5 linked regions of the Homo sapiens genome follow. The protein of the gene in region 4 purifies or fractionates together with the protein of the main gene of each other region. This does not show direct contact. Each region holds a gene or a part of one and is shown on either strand. Other genes may lie near its edges. The genes, in order: TMEM171, CORO2B, AGL, TOM1L2 and LDAF1.

The links.
Region 1: the proteins of TOM1L2 (region 4) and TMEM171 purify together in Homo sapiens (co-immunoprecipitation; one large-scale study listed by IntAct). This does not show direct contact.
Region 2: the proteins of TOM1L2 (region 4) and CORO2B purify together in Homo sapiens (co-immunoprecipitation; one large-scale study listed by IntAct). This does not show direct contact.
Region 3: the proteins of TOM1L2 (region 4) and AGL fractionate together in Homo sapiens (co-fractionation; one large-scale study listed by BioGRID). This does not show direct contact.
Region 5: the proteins of TOM1L2 (region 4) and LDAF1 purify together in Homo sapiens (co-immunoprecipitation; one large-scale study listed by IntAct). This does not show direct contact.

What each region holds. Positions count from the first base shown.
Region 1 is NC_000005.10:73,123,293-73,127,104, forward strand, and holds part of TMEM171 (transmembrane protein 171), read left to right. Parts: intron 1-13; 5' UTR 14-81; coding exon 82-721; intron 722-3,812.
Region 2 is NC_000015.10:68,724,838-68,728,306, reverse strand, and holds the end of CORO2B (coronin-2B), read right to left. Parts: intron 2,465-3,469; coding exon 2,333-2,464; 3' UTR 501-2,332; downstream 1-500. UniProt on the Homo sapiens protein: May play a role in the reorganization of neuronal actin structure.
Region 3 is NC_000001.11:99,919,647-99,923,458, forward strand, and holds part of AGL (glycogen debranching enzyme), read left to right. Parts: intron 1-1,887; coding exon 1,888-2,005; 3' UTR 2,006-3,812. UniProt on the Homo sapiens protein: Multifunctional enzyme acting as 1,4-alpha-D-glucan:1,4-alpha-D-glucan 4-alpha-D-glycosyltransferase and amylo-1,6-glucosidase in glycogen degradation.
Region 4 is NC_000017.11:17,965,771-17,969,582, reverse strand, and holds part of TOM1L2 (TOM1-like protein 2), read left to right. Parts: intron 1-3,812. UniProt on the Homo sapiens protein: Acts as a MYO6/Myosin VI adapter protein that targets myosin VI to endocytic structures. May also play a role in recruiting clathrin to endosomes. May regulate growth factor-induced mitogenic signaling.
Region 5 is NC_000016.10:21,178,289-21,181,322, reverse strand, and holds the end of LDAF1 (lipid droplet assembly factor 1), read right to left. Parts: exon of another isoform or gene 2,527-3,034; coding exon of another isoform or gene 2,511-2,526; exon of another isoform or gene 2,391-2,510; intron 1,849-2,390; coding exon 1,767-1,848; 3' UTR 707-1,766; downstream 1-706. UniProt on the Homo sapiens protein: Plays an important role in the formation of lipid droplets (LD) which are storage organelles at the center of lipid and energy homeostasis. In association with BSCL2/seipin, defines the sites of LD formation in the endoplasmic reticulum.

The sequences.
Region 1 (3,812 bases), on a different chromosome or scaffold from region 4:
GTTGTGTTTGCAGAGCTGCTGAAATCTTGGAGGGAAGAAAACACATCCCACCCTGCCTCCGGGAAGGGGCCTCTCCTGGACATGTCTCCTGCAGCTGCTGCTGAGCCAGATGGGGACCAGCAGGACAGACACGTCAGCAAACTCATCTTCTGCTTCTTTGTCTTCGGCGCCGTCTTGTTGTGTGTGGGAGTCCTGCTCTCCATCTTTGGGTTCCAGGCATGCCAATATAAGCCCCTCCCAGACTGCCCCATGGTGCTCAAGGTGGCGGGGCCTGCATGTGCCGTGGTTGGGCTTGGGGCTGTGATCCTGGCCCGCTCCCGGGCGCAACTTCAGCTCCGTGCAGGGCTGCAGAGAGGTCAGCAGATGGACCCCGACCGAGCCTTCATCTGTGGAGAGAGCCGCCAGTTTGCCCAGTGCCTTATCTTTGGGTTTCTGTTCTTGACAAGCGGCATGCTCATCAGCGTCCTGGGCATTTGGGTCCCTGGATGTGGCTCCAACTGGGCGCAGGAACCGCTAAACGAGACAGACACTGGCGACTCAGAGCCCCGGATGTGTGGGTTCCTTTCTCTGCAGATCATGGGGCCCTTGATTGTGCTTGTGGGATTGTGTTTCTTCGTGGTTGCCCATGTTAAGAAGAGAAACACGCTGAATGCTGGCCAGGATGCCTCTGAGAGAGAAGAGGGACAGATCCAGATTATGGAGCCTGTCCAGGTCACTGTAGGTGGGTTGCTGTTATTTGCGTTCTTGCTTCTATCACAGTGGCTTTGCAGCAGGGTTTCACCAGCTGCTCTTGGTTCTCGTCTGGATTCTCTTTCTCAATTCTTCCATCTCTCACACATGTGTGTGCACACGCACACACCCCCATCATGTGTACATACACAATGGTGCTGCTGTGGGAAGCCCCGTAGGAACCTTGTATACATCTTTTCCCCCCCAGCAACTCTTTCCTACTTTGCAAAGCATTGGGATATTAAGTAGTGACCTTGACTGAGGTCACAGAGCAAATTAAGAGGAAAGTGAGAAGAACCATGAGGACAGCCTTGGAGCCTTCTGCCACCTTAGGGACTCACTAAGTGACCCTGTTACCCCTGTTATTCTCACACCAAAACCACATAGCATTTTAGTTGTGGGACACTTGGTTTCTCCTCCCAGGCTGTCACTAGCTGGCTGTCCTTGTAAGTCCTTAACCTCTCCTGCCTTGGTTTATGTCTCTATAAAATGAGCAGTGCCTCTCTAAGATTCCTGCAGCACTAACATTCTAGGATTCTGGATCTGTCTGAGTCCAGCAGTCTCCAGGTGTTTTGAGGGGCCTCTGCACTGTCTCTGTGTTGTCCTTCTTTTTTTGTGACATCATCCGTGGCTGCAGGGCTGAGGCAAAGCTTGGAAGCAGCGGGATGAACCAAGATGGAATATGACAGCACCTTTCTCCCGTGGAATGCCTACAAGTTCCTTTTGGGTCCCCCGGGTTCTACAGAAGAGATGGAGTGCCATTTCCCAGAGCCTGCCCCCTCAGAACAATAGCAGTAGCGTTGGCCTCAGCTTCACACAACCAAGGAAAAACCCCATCGCTGTTCATTGGCAGATCACTTTTTTTCAGTCTCCTACTTTTGAAAGAGTAAAGTTGTGAAACCACTGACATTTAAAAGGCTAGGAAAAGAGATCTTCAGAACAGAAACCATGGAGAGGACAGAGAGGGAATGTGACAAGTGAGATGCATCTCCTGTTTGGGGCTGTCTACTGGAAGCAGTGGAATTCACTGACTGCAGCCTGGAGGGGAGGAACTGGGTTGCTGGACTTGCATGGCACCAGCCTTGGAGAGGAGGGGCAGATGGATCTGCAGCCATTCCTTGTGTAGAGCCAGGGTAGATGCTCCCAGCTTATTTATTAATATATTTATGCATTAATATATTTATGGTGACAACACAAATATTAGTTATATATTCACAATAGCTAACACTTATATAGGGTCTATTTTTGTGCCAAACACCCATTTAAGTGCTTTATCATGTGCTCTTAAAGGTCCCCTGTGTGAAATTCATTCACACCTACAGCAATCCAAGGGGGCAGATAACGTTAGTACCTCCATGTTACACAGGAAGAAGATGAGGCATGTAGATATCAAGTGACTTGCCTAAGGTCACACCCTAGCAAGTGGTAGAGCAAGGTTCCAACCCAAGTGTCTGGGCACACCCACAGAATAGCCCTTGCATAGCACCCTGCCCAGGGCACGTGGGTGTGATTCCATTTTATCCTTCACCAAGTGTTCCTGGAAGTTATTACATGAAAAAAGGGGCTCCCTTTAATTTGATAGATGTTCTTAGTGTTCTTGAGGAACACCGTGGGGTACAAGTAAATATGTTCATCCAACGCTGCTATGCTTTCATCTAGTTGGGAACGGTTCGAGGGGAGTTTTGGGGCCCAGCCTTCCACCTGGTAGCTGGAATCAGAGTGGACAGAGCTGTGGTGCTGCTCCTGGTGTCCTTGTCCTGAAGTTGGCACTGCATGGTTTAAAATCTTTTCTACTTAACTCTTTAAGTCCCCATCAAACCTATGAAAATCTTGCATCCTAATTCCTCTCCTTTGATATTGTGGAATAGGGTTTACATTTTTAGAATCCAAGAAGCATGCTCTCCTTGTTGTGGGTACACTCAGTGCTATCCTGGATACACAGCAGGTATATGAGACAGCTCTCCTTGGAGGGGTGTATATGTTGTCTGCTCACAGAGGACATCAAGTTCTGAAAGACGCATGAAAGGGAACTCGCAGAGGAGAGGCCTCTTTCCAGGGAGAGCAGGTTGCAGGGTGTGGGCAGGCGGAGCTGCTGGGCCAAAGGGCTGGAGACCCTTGGAGGTAACAGGGTTACTGGAGCATATCCTTGTGTGTTTTTGAGAGGTGATTGGCCTGCCCTCAAGGGTTACTTCACAGGTTCTTTATTCTACAGTGTGTAATGGAAGTGAACACAACCCCAATTCCTCTAACCTACCAAGACCTTCTAAAAAAGTAAATGAGAATCTCAGGACCGCTATTATGCTTTCTCACCTTTAGATTAGCAAAACGTATTTTAAACTCTCATTGCCTTCTCCTTGGAGAAGGAAGGGGAGATGGAATTAATGCATTTTCTGAAGGGCTAAATTCCCTCTGGGAAATGATTGAGGCTGCTGTGGCTCATGAAGGGTAGAGAGTGGAGCCAGTGGCCAATTGCCTCTGTGGTGTTTCTTCATCATGCAAATCAGTGCCCTCGGCTGGTGTTGAGCTGAGAGAGTTGGCTCTGTGCTCCGCACTGTGTTCACTGCCAGATGCAAATCAGTCCATCTAGTCCTTCCTTCTATCTGTCCTGTGATGCAAGAACTGCCTGGCCTGCAGTTTACAGCTGTGGCGGCTGAGGTCAAGGAGGTCGCCTAGCTTGTTCAGGTTGGAACCCCCATCACTTTAAAGAATCCTATGCCACCCTAAGCAAGCATCAGACATGCTAGGAGTGTGAACCACTACAGGGAAGTAAAGCCCCATCTTCTTCATTTTTTCTGAACTGTTATTGCTATTGCCAGCTTCTCAGAGGCTTTCACCAGGCCCCCAGCAGTGGTGCTGCCAGAGCTCTACACTGTTCTGGTCCACTTGTGTGGTGCATTTTATATTGGAATCGGAATACAAATTAGAGTTTGCATCTGGTCCCTAGTTTCTCCTCAAAACATGAGGATGTATTCTGGAGTGAACAGTAGCCACAGAAATGCAAAAACCAAACTTCTTTGGGTTCAACCTTCATCTGTATGGGTGAAATTTTGGTAAATAACAGTTAGGGGCTGTAATATGGCTTA
Region 2 (3,469 bases), on a different chromosome or scaffold from region 4:
GGACCTACCAATTAGAGCTGCTATGAAGATCAAATGAGTCAAGTGTGTGGAATCCTGCCTGATAAACTTCAAGGCACCGTTCCAATGTAGAGCGTTGGTCTCACCCAGACCCCAACACGGGGCAGCATCTATTGAATAGCGGTAGAACAGTGGTTCTTAACCGGGAGGTGATTCTGACACCCCAGGGGACATTGGGCAATATCTGGGGACATTTTTGGTTGTCCCAATTGGATGAGGGTTGCTATGGCATCTGATTGGTGGAGCCAGGGATACTGCTAAATATCTTACAATGTACAGGGCAGCCCCCACAGCAAAGAATTATTCGCCCCAAATGTCAATAGTGCTGAGATAAATGAAGGTGTGAAATTATATCTGTAGGTACAGACGTGGGTTGTCATTCCAGAAAGGCAAAGGAGCTGTGGGTGGGGAGCTGACCATCAAGGTACCATGGTGACCAAGAACAGGAACCACTGGGGTTAAATGAGATGGCTATGCCCAGGTTTGATAAGTTGAAAACATTTTATTTCAATTCTATCCTTGGGAGGCAGCATAAATAATCACAGAAGACCACAAAGGTCAATGGGGAAGGAAAAAAAAAAGCTCCAGAAATGTGGGAGGAGGAGATGAGTGCTGACACTGTCTAGCTGTGGGGTACGGGGTGAGGAGGCCCTACTGTAGCTGGCTGGGAGGATGGAGGTTCATAAAGGAAAGGCCCAGCTCACCTGGAGGGGCTTGGGTAGCCCTGGCCTCTGTGGATGGGATTTTCCGTAGGGCGGCCATGGGAAAAGCAGGTATGGAGTATAATGCATCTAGTAGATCCTAGCTAATGAAAGAAAAGAGTGGACACCCATTTCTTGATTTCCAGATCTCACCCCAAACTGTGACTCTTCTGAGAACAGTGTTTATAAACTCTTTGTGCGTAGTGGGAAATGAAAGGAGGAAAAAAGAAGGAATAAAAGAAAATGTGTACAAGATCAAATGAAATGTGGCATCTCAGAGTTGCGTGACCTTGGGCCACTTCTCTCGGTTTCCTCATCTGCAGAAGGGAGTAGACGTGAGGCTCCATGAGATCCTATGTGTCAAAGGACTGCAGAAACTTTAAAGTGCTATACGGATGCGAGTGGCTGTGGTCATTCTACGTGCATAAGGCTGAAAGTGGCTGAGATAGCGGTGCTGAGACACACGCAGAGCATCCCTAGAAGCCATCAGACCCTGGTCTGCCTTCCCCAGGGCCAAGCTCCACCCTTCTCAGCCTCAGCTTCCAGGAGGACGAGGCCTCATCTCAGATGGAGTCCCCTGGGGAGGGTGGTGGTGACAGCTGAGGGTGGGGACCTGAAGGATCTAGGGGCACAGAGCGTGAGGGGCCTCAACTGGGCAGTGTGGCACATCGGCACTACTGGTGCTGGGTAGACGGTAGCAGTGGCTTCCAGTTCTCATTCTCCATAGAGACTTGGGCACTGGTGAAGCCCACAAAGGGATTGGCATCTTGATGCAGCGGGAAAGGCCCTGGCCTTGGGGTCTGAACACCCAGGGTCTTGGTCGTGGGCCCATTGTTGACCTGCTGGGTGACTTTATAAGTCATTTCCCCATTGCAACCCTCAGTTCTGTCATTTGTCAAAGGGGGACACTAATCCCTACCCTGCCTGGCTCACAAATTGAATGGGAAAAGGGTGTGCAAGAGCTTTGTAGAGAATCATGGGGAAGGCAAGGGGTCATTATGGCCTTGGAGAGCAATCCTCTGAATTCCCTGAAGACAAGAGGGTGGGAAGGGAAGAGACAGAAAGGAGCCGGGCCGCTCGCTGTCCTCGTCGGGTGAGGCAGGCTTCCGGGGCTGCTGAGGGAAGAGGGGGTGGGACGAAAGAGGGATCACTGCAGCCTGCAGTCCAGCACTTACACTGTGGTACCTTCAGTGATGCTGAGAGCTCCAGGCGGGAGTGCTGAGATGTCCTGGCAGCCCCCTTCACAGGGGAAAAGTCCAAGTTCTAAGTCTAGCTGGGATCCCGCTTCCCCTCTTGCTTCCTGGTCCACTGAGATGGAGCCCCTGCCAACCCCAGGGAGTCTGTAGTCTTCACCCAGCTGAGGGGAAGCCTGGCTCCTGGGGTGGCAGGGAAAGGGGCTGCCGGCAGGGGGTCTCCAGAAGCTGGGGACTTTTATTAGCATGAGGTCAGGAGGTTAGAGGTTGGCTTCCAGTTCTCGAGGTGGTAGGCGGGGGTCCTCAGGCTGGCCCCCACTCCTGTCCTGGCTCTGTCTCTGGGGTCACTGGTAAGGGAGAAGTTAAGGGATGAGTAGAAACGACGGAGAGATCGGCTTAGAAAACAGCCCAGCTGGGGAGCTAACAGTTCTTGGGGCTGTTGCGCAAGTTTTTCAGTTCCAGCTGGAGCTGCCGAATGCGGATGTCCTTCTGGGCCAGCTCCTCTTTCAACCGTCGAATCTCATCCTGCTGCCGGAAGAACATTCGAAGGAGCTGGGGTGGAGGAAGAGAGGGGGCCAAGGAGGGCCCAGGAGAGAGCAGGTGAGACAAGGATTTCCCAGGTGAGTCTCCAGCTGCCTGCCGCCCGTGCCCTCACATTCCCCCAGGCCTCCCACTGCTTGATACATTTATTCTCCCCAGGTGCATTTATTGCACCTCTCCCATCTCTAGCTCAGCCCATGGCTCTTACTTTCCCTTGTGAGGTAGGAAACAAAACCTGCGTCATTAATTGATTCAGGATCACTGAAAAAGGAGTGACCAAACAGTCCAGTTTTCCAAATATCCCAAGCTTGTCCCTTTTTGGGTCCTAACTTAATGCTTTTCTTTACCATTGTATTAATAGATGTATTATTACATCTATAATAATACATAATAATAGATGTATAATAATACATAATAGATGTATTATTACATGTATTACATATATTATTACATTATTATTGCTAATTTATGTATTTATTTATTTTTGAGACAAAGTCTCGCTTTGTCGCCCAGGCTGTAGTGCGGTGGCATGATTTCGGCTCACTGCAACCTCTGTCTCCTGGGTTCAAACAATTCTCCTGCCTCAGCCTCCCGAGTAGCTGGGATTACAGGCATGTGCCACCATGCCTGGATAATTTTTGTATTTTTAGTAGAGACTGGGTTTCACCATGTTGGCCAGGCTGGTCTCGAACTCCTGACCTCAAGAGATCCACCCACCTCAGCCTCCCAAAGTGCTGGGATTACAGGTGTAAGCTACCATGCCCGGCTTGTGCTGATAATTTAGAACTTTCTAAAATGCTTTGTATCCTTCTCTTCTTAAGGAGGCTCAGGATACAGAATGGAATCTAGCTTTTTCCCTACTGATGAGGAACTATGACAAGAATACCAAAGTTTGCACTGGTCAGGGATTCATGTACAGCTATCCTGGCAGATCTTCACCCCAATGACTCTCTAGCTTAACCCGCCTCCATTTCTCCTGTAAAGCATATTGACAGATGTCCACAAAACGCCGAGCCC
Region 3 (3,812 bases), on a different chromosome or scaffold from region 4:
CTGAGTTTACACCAGTTCCAAGCTATTTCTCAGTGTTTAATTCTATTTTTCTCCCTTTCTATATTTGTAATTCCCTTTTCCAACAATGAATAACCTACTTCCCACATTGGGCCATCACCACCACATAGAGTCTGCTCACCCAGCTTGGGCCTGCTACCCCACAGTAAGCCACCTCTATGTGTGGAGCCCTCCTGGCACCACTTGGATTCTAACTACCCACTCTGGACCACTCTCACCCTTGGTGGACTCCCTCTTCATACCTCTTGGACTCTAACATCCTGCTCCATACTACCTATTACCCTTTCCCCTCCATTTCTGGTCACCTACCTTGCTCTGTCCCACCTAATGACTTCAGGATGAATTTTTCAGGAAAGCAAGGGAAAGGGGACTTCCTTATATTTGTATGGATACATTCCATGTCCTAGTGTCCAAGTGTAATTATGGGCAGCATATTCATGGTTTTGTAACCTCATTTTGTTTTTTAATTTTGGTATCTGTTAGTTTGCTAGAGCTGCAGTAACAGAGCACTACAAACTGAGTGACTTAAATAATAGAAATTGTTAAACAGCAGAATATTGTCTCACAGTTCTGGAGGCCAGAAATCTGAAAAATCAAGGCATGGGCAGAGCCATGCTCCCTCTGAAGGCATTAGGGAAAGGTCTCTTCCAGCCCTGTCTCCTAGCTGCTGATAATCCTGTGGCTTGTGGCAGCAAAACTCCAATCTTCATGTGGCATTATCTTAACTAATTACATCTGCAGTGACCCGATTTCCAAACAGGTTCACATTCTGAGGTACTCGGGGCTAGGACTTCAACATACAAATTCTGTGGAGATGTAATTCAACACATTACAGATGCCCAGGTATCCAACTTCAGTCATTTGGCATTTTACTCTGATGTAGCTTGAATACTTGGAAACATACATTTTCTATATTTTCCATGTTTCTATGACAGTTTTTTAAATATGGTACCTAGCTGATATTAGTTATTATCCAAAATACCCTGTTTTACCTAATGGGATTATTTTTTCCCATTTTTACTATGAAGTATTTGATGCCCACTGAAGCGTGTATGTAATATAGCCCTGAGATACAAACCATAGTAATGAAACAAATATGTTCCCACAACCCAACTTAAAAATGAAACATTACAGATGTCTGTACTTTTTGAATTTGTTTTCATTTTTAAGGGATTACATTGAAATTAACAATAAATTTGATGTGCTAACATCACTGTGTTCTGATAAGGAGGGCTGGAACAAGTTATTTAACCTCTATAAATCTCTCTTACCTCTCTATAGATAGGAATACTTATGGTACCTTCCTTACAGGGTTACTGTGAACATTAAATGAGATAATATACATAAAAGCAGTATTAGAACATAAATGCATAATAAATACCAAGTTTATTATTCAGTAGAAAGAGAAATTAATTGGCATTTTTTTCTTTAAGTAGAAAGTATTCTGGAATGCCATTTTTCCGCCTAATCATAGTTCTTAGTGTTTCTTCATTACTTTTACTTTTACAGTTTTATCAAGATCACACATAACACATCTGCATAATTACAATTTGAGTCTCATAAACAAAATTATGCCTGAGAGAGTATTTATCTCTATGTTTATATGTAGCTTGTAATGGTAGTTTCTTCTATGTTTTTAATACATAAAGGGATTCCTTGTATTTAAAAGTCTCAAATTCCAAAGATGGAATGTCAAAGAATAATTTCAGTCTAAATTCATTTGTATGTCTTTAGGATATTGTTTTATTTTGTAGCAAATGACTACATATGATTATTTTCTACACTAGAAGGCAAAAATCACCAGGTCTTGCCTATTTTGTTAATATGAATTAAATTATGTCTTTGTAAAATGTCTTTTCTTTCATTCAGATCCCCTTGGAAAGGACTTCCAGAACTGACCAATGAGAATGCCCAGTACTGTCCTTTCAGCTGTGAAACACAAGCCTGGTCAATTGCTACTATTCTTGAGACACTTTATGATTTATAGTTTATTACAGATATTAAGTATGCAATTACTTGTATTATAGGATGCAAGGTCATCATATGTAAATGCCTTATATGCACAGGCTCAAGTTGTTTTAAAAATCTCATTTATTATAATATTGATGCTCAATTAGGTAAGATTGTAAAAGCATTGATTTTTTTTAATGTACAGAGGTAGATTTCAATTTGAATCAGAAAGAAATATCATTACCAATGAAATGTGTTTGAGTTCAGTAAGAATTATTCAAATGCCTAGAAATCCATAGTTTGGAAAAGAAAAATCATGTCATCTTCTATTTGTACAGAAATGAAAATAAAATATGAAAATAATGAAAGAAATGAAAAGATAGCTTTTAATTGTGGTATATATAATCTTCAGTAACAATACATACTGAATACGCTGTGGTTCATTAATATTAACACCACGTACTATAGTATTCTTAATACAGTGCTCACTGCATTTAATAAATATTTAATAAATGATGAATGATAGAAGTTTCCATCTACAATATATGTTCCTAAATGGAGCACAGATGTTCAAACTATGCTTTCATTTTTTCACTGATATATTAATTTTTGTGTAATGAATGCCAACAGTATATTTTATATGATTTACTTATGTGAGGAAACATGCAAAGCATTAGGAAATTTATTTCCTAAAAACAGTTTTGTAAAATTAGTATTGAGTTCTATTGAGTATTATAAGATAGCTTACATTTTCAAAATGGAAATTGTCGGTCATATTTCTAGAACTTTAAAGAAAAAAGAATGTTATATTAGTTTTCTAAAACTCAACTATCTTTAGTCATGTTCAAAAATCTATTGCTAGATCATAGTAGATACTGGTTTTCTATTAACTCAAAACCTACATTGACAAGTTTAACATTGAGAAGAATCTTAACAAAAATATGGATATGAATTCAGTAGATATCTTAAATTCAATAAAATCACTGGAAGTTTTTCATGATAACTTATTTTAAGATGCCTTAAAAATCTTAAAGTCACAAAAGGAAAAAGGTTTTTAACATTTACATGAGTTAACATTTTTTCATAGAACTTATTTCCTAGATAGAATTTTTTACTGTTTTTTACTGTTTTCTTAAGAAAACAGTTAAATCATTATGCATTCAGTTGGAAGAAAGTAGTGGCAAGAATTCTTTCATTGCTATATAATATTCAGTGGCTCATTTATACCTAATAAAATAATGGTATTTTAAAATAATGCTACTTTCAAAGTAGCATTTTTTTAGTTAGTTTACAGGTTACATACCCAAAACCTTAACTATGACTAAGAAATTAAAGAAGAAAACCAGCAAACTAAAACTTCTGGGCAGCAAAAATATATAAATGCTTCAGATGTCAAATACCCATGCTTGAAAGCTCGTGTAATTTACTTTAAGATTATCTGCCTGCTCTTCTTCAAAGCTGACCTTGCTTTAGAAATAGTTTTAACTAGCTTAGTTTTCTGGTTTCCAAAACTAAAATAGATTAAATCCTACAAATTTAAGGACAGTTGTGACAGTAATCTGACCACTATCTATAAATACATTGGACATTGGTTTCCAAATCTCCCTTTCTTCTTCAGTTCCTTCCTTGTTCAATATATACCCTTCTCTAAACTGTGCGGGTAAAAGGAATGACTGTCCTTGAGAGAACCATTAGTTTATCAAAGGTTTATGTAGTTTTGTTGCTGTACCCTAACTTTGATATTCAGGGAGGTAGGAAAGGTAACAGAAAACCAGCATATTTAATCAAAGCAAGAAGTAATCGCTGACAGTTAAATGTGACCAAAAAAATTAAAAGTTCACAAT
Region 4 (3,812 bases):
CCAATAGGTCATTTCAGTTCAGTTCAGGTAAATGATTAATGGACAGAATTAGGTTCTAATGTATATTCCGTACTGTTGTGACAAAGTGTCAAAGTGACTTTCTTGATATTTAGTGTTGTTAGTATTCTTTTAAAAGAATGTGCGGGGGTGGGGGATTGGTGGGAGGGAGGGGGAATACAGAAATAAAATAACAACTACAAAGCTAATGATTAAAAACAGCAGCTGTAGGCTGGTTGTGGTGGCTCATGCCTGTAATCCCAGCACTTTGGGAGGCCAAGGTGGTGGATCACTTGAGGTCAGGAGTTGGAGGCCAGCCTGACCAATATGGTGAAACCCTGTCTCTACTAGTAATACAAAAATGAGCCGGGTGTGGTGGTGGGCGCCTGTAATCCCAGCTATTCAGGAGGCTGAGACAGGAGAATCGCTTGAACCTGGGAGGCAGAGGTTGCAGTGAGCCAAGATTGTGCCACCGCGCTCCAGCCTGGGCGACAGAGTGAGACTCTGTCTCCAAAAAAAAAAAAAAAAGGAGAGCTGGTCCCTCTCTGATCCCTGTCCTCAATGGATTTACGGTTTCAGGAGAGAAGACAGAGATGCATGAAACAATGAGTGGTGTAGATTGTAAGTGCTGAAGGAGTCAGAAACAATTCAGAAGAGGCTGGGGTGACAGGGACTGGCTTCTTTGAGTCTGAGGGCTGTTCATAAAGGATGGGTAGGAACTCTGCATGCAGAAAACAATATCATTGGGCCTAGGGACAGCTGAATGAGGCAGGGAGTGGGGCACAGGCACATCTGTGAGTACCAGTCTGAATGGAGCAGAGGTGGCTGTGGGGAGTGGTGGCAAGTAGGGTTTGGGCACAGGAGGAAGCCCTGCTCTGGATGGGTGGCATCAAAGACTACATTCTTTTTTTTTTTTTTTTTGAGATGGAGTCTCACTTCATCACCCAGGCTGGAGTGCAGTGGCACGATCTAAGCTCACTGCAACCTCCGCCCCACAAGTTCAAGCGATTCTCCTGTCTCAGCCTCCCAAGTAGCTGGGATTACTGGTGCCTGGCACCGTGCCGGGCTAATTTTTGTATTTTTAGTAGAGACAAGGTTTCACTACCTTGGCCAGGCTGGTCTTGAACTCCTGACCTCGTGATCCACCCTCCTTGGCCTCCCAAAGTGCTAGGATTATAGGAGTGAGCCATTGCGCCCGGCCCAAAGACTACGTTCTTTAACTGACTTCAACTTTTAGTCTCTTTGGACCTAATTTTCCCTGCTTATAAAATAATACTTCTCAACAGCTGCATGGGGCTTACACCTAAATAATTTTGTCTGTTCACTTCAGTAGGCAGTTATGAGTGCCTGTGGGGGGCCAGGCCTGTGCCAGGCTCTGGGGATACAAATATTAACAAGCTGCTCTTAGGGAGCCTTCGGTAGAGGTAACATGCTCACAAAAGGTGTCCTGGGTCTGTCTGAGCGGTTGGTGGAGTAATTCTTACTCTGTCTTATGCGTGGGCCTCATGTGAACATTCTAACCTGGTACGATTTAGTAGAACACTTAGCGTGTTCATCTCAAGTTAGCGGCTAAGACCACAGTCTGACATAGTTAACTGTGCATTTCTTGCATCCATCCCGCCCTTTATTCTGGAGGGCAGTTCCTGAGTAGAAAGCATGGTTTAGGGAGAGAGTAAGCTGGACAGGTGCGGTGGCTCACACCTGTAATCCAGCACTTTGGGAGGCCGTGGCGGGTGGATCACCTGAGGTTAGGAGTTCAAGACCAGCCTGGTTAATGTGGCAAAACCCCATCTCTACTAAAAATACAAAAATTAGCTGGGCATGGTGGCACGCGCGTATAATCCCAGCTACTCGGGAGGCTGAGGCGGAAGAATCCCTTGAACCTGGGAGGTGGAGGTTGCAGTGAGCCGAGATCGTGCCATTTGCACTCCAGCCTGAATGACAGAGCGAGACTGCATCTCCAAAAAAGAAAAAAAAGAGAGAGAAAGCCTAGCCATGGTGTGCGAGGCTAAGAAGTGTGGTGGAAGAAAGAGTACTTACTTGTATTTCTTAATTTTCTGTTCTGCAACAAGCTTCAAAATGTTAACTGTCTTAATCTCAGCCTTCCACAACTGCTTGGAGTTGGATGACATACATGGGGAGTTCCCCAAGTCAGGTCCATTGTGTCTGCAGCAGTTTGCAGTTTTCCTTGTGTTGGCTAGAAAAAGTTTTCAGAAAATCCTTTTCCAAGAGTAAAGTTTAGATTCAAAGATCAGTGAGTAGTTAGTTAATTCTGACCAGAATATTGGGGGTGGTGGGCATGTATTCTCTTCATTGTTCTGCTTTAATAAACAGGCAAGAAGCAGATATTCTGTTGCAGAGTTTGTTTGTAGACTGACTGGTGTTGGACATAAACTACTTCATAATATCCTGTGAATGGTAGACGTTTAACCTGGCTATTTGTACCAAGAATAGTTAGTTGTCCCTCAGATTGCTATGTGTATTAGGGTTCTCTAGAGGGACACAACTAATAGGGTAGATGTTTATATTAAGGGGAGTTTATTAAGGAGTACTGACTCACACAATCACAAGATGAGGTCCCACAGTAGGCCATCTGCAAGCTGAGAAGCAAGGAAGCCAGTCTGAGTCCCAAAGCTGAAGAACTTGGAGTCTGATGTTCAAGGGCAGGAATTTGCAAAGCCCTTTTGCTTCAGTCATTTTATTTAGTGTTCACAACCTTGTGAGATATACAGGAAGATAACTGGAAGGAACTTATAATTATTAAGTACCAACTATATGCAAACTCTGTACATAGAATCTCATTTAACCCTCACAACATTTAACTATTTGGGTGTTATCATCCCTGTATCACATAAGGAAATCGAGGCTCTGAGAAGTTAAGAGACTTGTGCAAGGTCAATGGCAGAGTGAAGCCTAGAATCTACTCCTGATCCAGTGCTCATTCTGTGCTGCCATTTATGTTACTTTTTGCACTCTGAGCTCATGATTCAGCCGCAAGGGAATCACCTGGAGGGCTTGTTAAAAGTGGATCCTACCCTCAGAGTTTCTGTTTCAGTAGGTTTGGGGTGGGAAGTAGCATTCTACATTTCTGTCAAGTTCTCTAGTGATGCTGATGCTACTGGTTCACTTCGAGAACTGTAGTTCTTGCTTTGAAGTTCTGTTTCTTTAATCTTTTCTTTATCTTTCTTCAAACATTAAATGTAGGTTTTCTTGTGGACAGGCTAAAAGAGTGATTATTTAGAATTTGTTCATTTATTTATTCAGTGGCCCTGTACTATCTGTATATAGCAAGCTGAGAATTTCCCAGTGTGTAGGTATCTAAATTAGATCAGATAGAAAGTAGTTGCAAGATTGGATAGATAAATGCAGTAAGGAAATGTAGGAGGGGAGGGGTGACCTCAGGTGGTAATAATAATAGCTAAAGGCTTTTGGGTTTTTTGTTTGTTTTTTTGTTTCTTTGTTTTCCAGATGGAGTCTTGCTCTGTTGCCCAGGGTGGAGTGCAGTGGCGCGATCTCAGCTCACTGCAACCTCCACCTCCTGGGTTTAAGGGATTCTCCTGTCTCAGCCTCCCAAGTAGCTGGGATTACAGGTGCCCACCATCATGCCCGGCTAATTTTTGTATTGTTAGTAGAGACAGGGTTTCACCATGTTGACCACGTTGGTCTCAAACTCCTGACCTCAGATGATCCACCCACCTTGGCCACCCAAAGTGCTGGGATTACAGGTGTGAGCCACCATGCCCGGCCCCGTTTTTGGGGTTTTAAAAAAAGTTTAATGTTGTATTCCTATGTGCCAGAGACTGAAGTGGGCACTT
Region 5 (3,034 bases), on a different chromosome or scaffold from region 4:
CATTCTTCATTATTAAAGCTGCAGAACCCAGCTGGGTAGATAGCATAGAGAGATAATATCAGACAGTTGTATGAATGAAGGAAACATCCAATAAACAGTAACTGTTAATATTAATAGTTATATTAATAGTGGGCTGATCTATCGCCTCCCCTGTTTCTTGAATGGCCACCATCCCAGCCCTGTCCCATCTGCATATCCCATCCTCCTAGCCACCATGATTGGTCTGGGGTCGCTCACATGACCCAAGTCTATCCAATCAGAGCCAAACCCAGAATATTTGTATATACTGTTGGAAAAAAGCAGTTTTCTTGCCCAGGATGGAGCTCCTGGGACCTCCGAAAGGGGTGGCGGGCCTGCCTGCAAAAGCAGCTCACACTGAGGAAAGCTATACTGAGAGATGAGGGGTGAGAGATGCTTAATGACACCACCTGAGCCCCTGGAATCAGCAGCACCTCAAGATCTACCCCTTGGCTTTTTGGTTGAGTGAAACTAATCCTTCTCCCTACCACCCCTCTTTTTAAAGTAATGTGGAATTGGGTGTCTATTGCGAGCAACTAAAAAAATCCCTATTACCCAGCACCAGTCATGAAATCGACAGAGGAATAGGCAGGTCTGATGTATGGAGCAGAAGGGAAAAAGAGTAAAGAAAAAAAGCCCACCCAAATAAATATTTAATGAAATGCCACGCAAATAAACCACTCAGTAATTCCACTGGGAAATCCCATAGGAAGTTTTATTTTTACTTACTAGTCCTTTAGCATTTTTATTTTAAGAAATGGCTTAGGCTGGGCACAGTGGCTCACGCCTGTAATCCCAGCACTTTGGGAGGCCAAGGCAGGTGGAGCACCTGAGGTCAGGAGTTTGAGACTAGCCTGACCAACATGGTGAAACCCCATCTGTACTAAAAAAAATACAAAAAAAAACTAGCCGGGCACGGTGGCGGGTGCCTGTAATCCCAGCTACTTGGGAGGCTGAGGCACGAGACTCACTTGAACCTGGGAGTTGGAGGTTGCAGTGAGCCGAGACTGCACCATTGCACTCCAGCCTGGGCAACAAGAGGGAAACTCCGTCACAAAAAAAAAAAAAAAAAAAAAAGAAAGAAATTACTTAAAGGACAAGCTCTTTAGAACAATACAACAGTACCAAGTGCAAATATGTAAAAGATTAACAGTACTTAACAGTACTCAACAGTTACAGTGGAAACTACACCTTTAGACTTTTTTGAAAATACTCTTGGCCACAAAGTTACATTTGGACTCTATTTTCCAACTTGGAGAGGCCAAATGTTGCTGTTCTTTCTGATAAAAAGCAAATACCACAGAAGGGCTTGTTCTGTTTTGGATTTTTTTTTTCATTTTGTTTCACATGAGTGAAAAAATTAACAGCTGCCCTCATTTCTGAAAACAAAAAACTATAAACAATCACTGTTGCTCCCAATGGGACCGTTGGACATAAGCCCTGAGGCTTTGGGGTCAACGGGCTAGACTCTAGAAGCCCAGGACCCCGCCAAGGTCAAGTCTGCATACTTGGGGCAGGGCGAGCTGTTGAACCATCGCATTTCTCTGCTGCTTCTTTACATGGGAACCAACACAAGAACAACACAATCCCTAAATTGGCTGCTGCGGGATCCTACAAGTAAGTGAAAAAGCGAGAGGACACAGCCAAGGAGTGCTTGCCTACCCAGCCCCCTTCTTCTAAGCCATAATCCCAAGGGGTGAGTATGATCCAGCAGTACTTGAAAAGAAGCCCGGCCTCTGAGCAGTCACTCATTCCTGGTAAAGCCCCTCGAATTCTGCAGACTTCATGGCTGGCAGAAAGTCACAACTGGTGTTTTGCTGTGTCAGTGGCCTGTCGGATAACAAGAAGAGATCGTTAGCTCTAGGGCCTCAGTAAAGAGCAACGTTGGAAGTGTGCATAGCTGAATACATGATGTTCTTTTTCCTGATTTTTAGCTGCTTCTTGCAACCACACCAGGCCTATGTCCATTATACAGATGAAGAAACTGAGGGCACAGGAGGTTAAAATGACCAGGTTAGGAGTAGGGTTACGGCCCCTTTTCCATTTTCTAATTTGGATATTTATTATGTTTTTCTTAATTATCTGTGTCCTCACAACAACCCAGTGAGAATGGTAGATTAAGAGTAGCCATTTTGTCTATTTTACCAATGGACAAAAACTGAAATCAGAGAAGTCAAGCAGCCCGTTCAAGACCACACAGCTGAAAACATGGCAGGGCGGGGATTCAGACCATATCTTCTGATTTCAATTAGTTTCTTGACACCTTCCATGGAAAGGAGTTCGGGGGAGGATTGTATTAGTCCGTTCTTATGTTGCTAATAAAGACCTGAGACTGGGTAATTTATAAAGAAAAAGAGGTTTCATGGACTCACAATTCCACATGGCTGGGGAGGCCTCACAATCATGGTGGAAGGCAAAGGAAGATCAGAGGCACTTCTTACATGGCGGCAGGCAAGAGAGCATGTGCAGGGGAAATGCCCTTTATAAAACCATCAGATCTCGTGAGACCTACAATCAGGAGAACAGCAACCAGCGGCCATCTGACAAAGTTCTAGTCAATGAAGTCTTTTGAAGTATAGTGGTGAGAGGTCCTGGGAAATATTTTATTCACATTTTTAAAAGGGTCAGACTCCATTTTTTTCTCCTTTTCTGCTGCCTTGAAGGTAGCTGGTAGATCTGGAGCTGCAGCAGCTATCTTGTGGCCATAAGGTAGGAAACCAATGGGCTAAGGATAGCAACACAGGAAGGCAAAAGGTGCCTGGTATGTTGATACCACACTGGCTGCACCAGCCCTGGGCTGTCTCCAGTTTTTCATTAAGCAATAAAAAAAAGTTCCCTGTGTGTTTAAACTAGTATCTACTTTGGTTTTTTTCATTATTTGCCACCTAAACCATTCCTCCCTGATAACAAAAAACTAAGAAAGAAGCCTTTCCTTTTCTTAGTAAAGATGTAAGGAAGCTAGTTATGCTCAGGCTGGTTTGGAAGATTATGATATGGGGTAGTGAGTTTGGTGGCT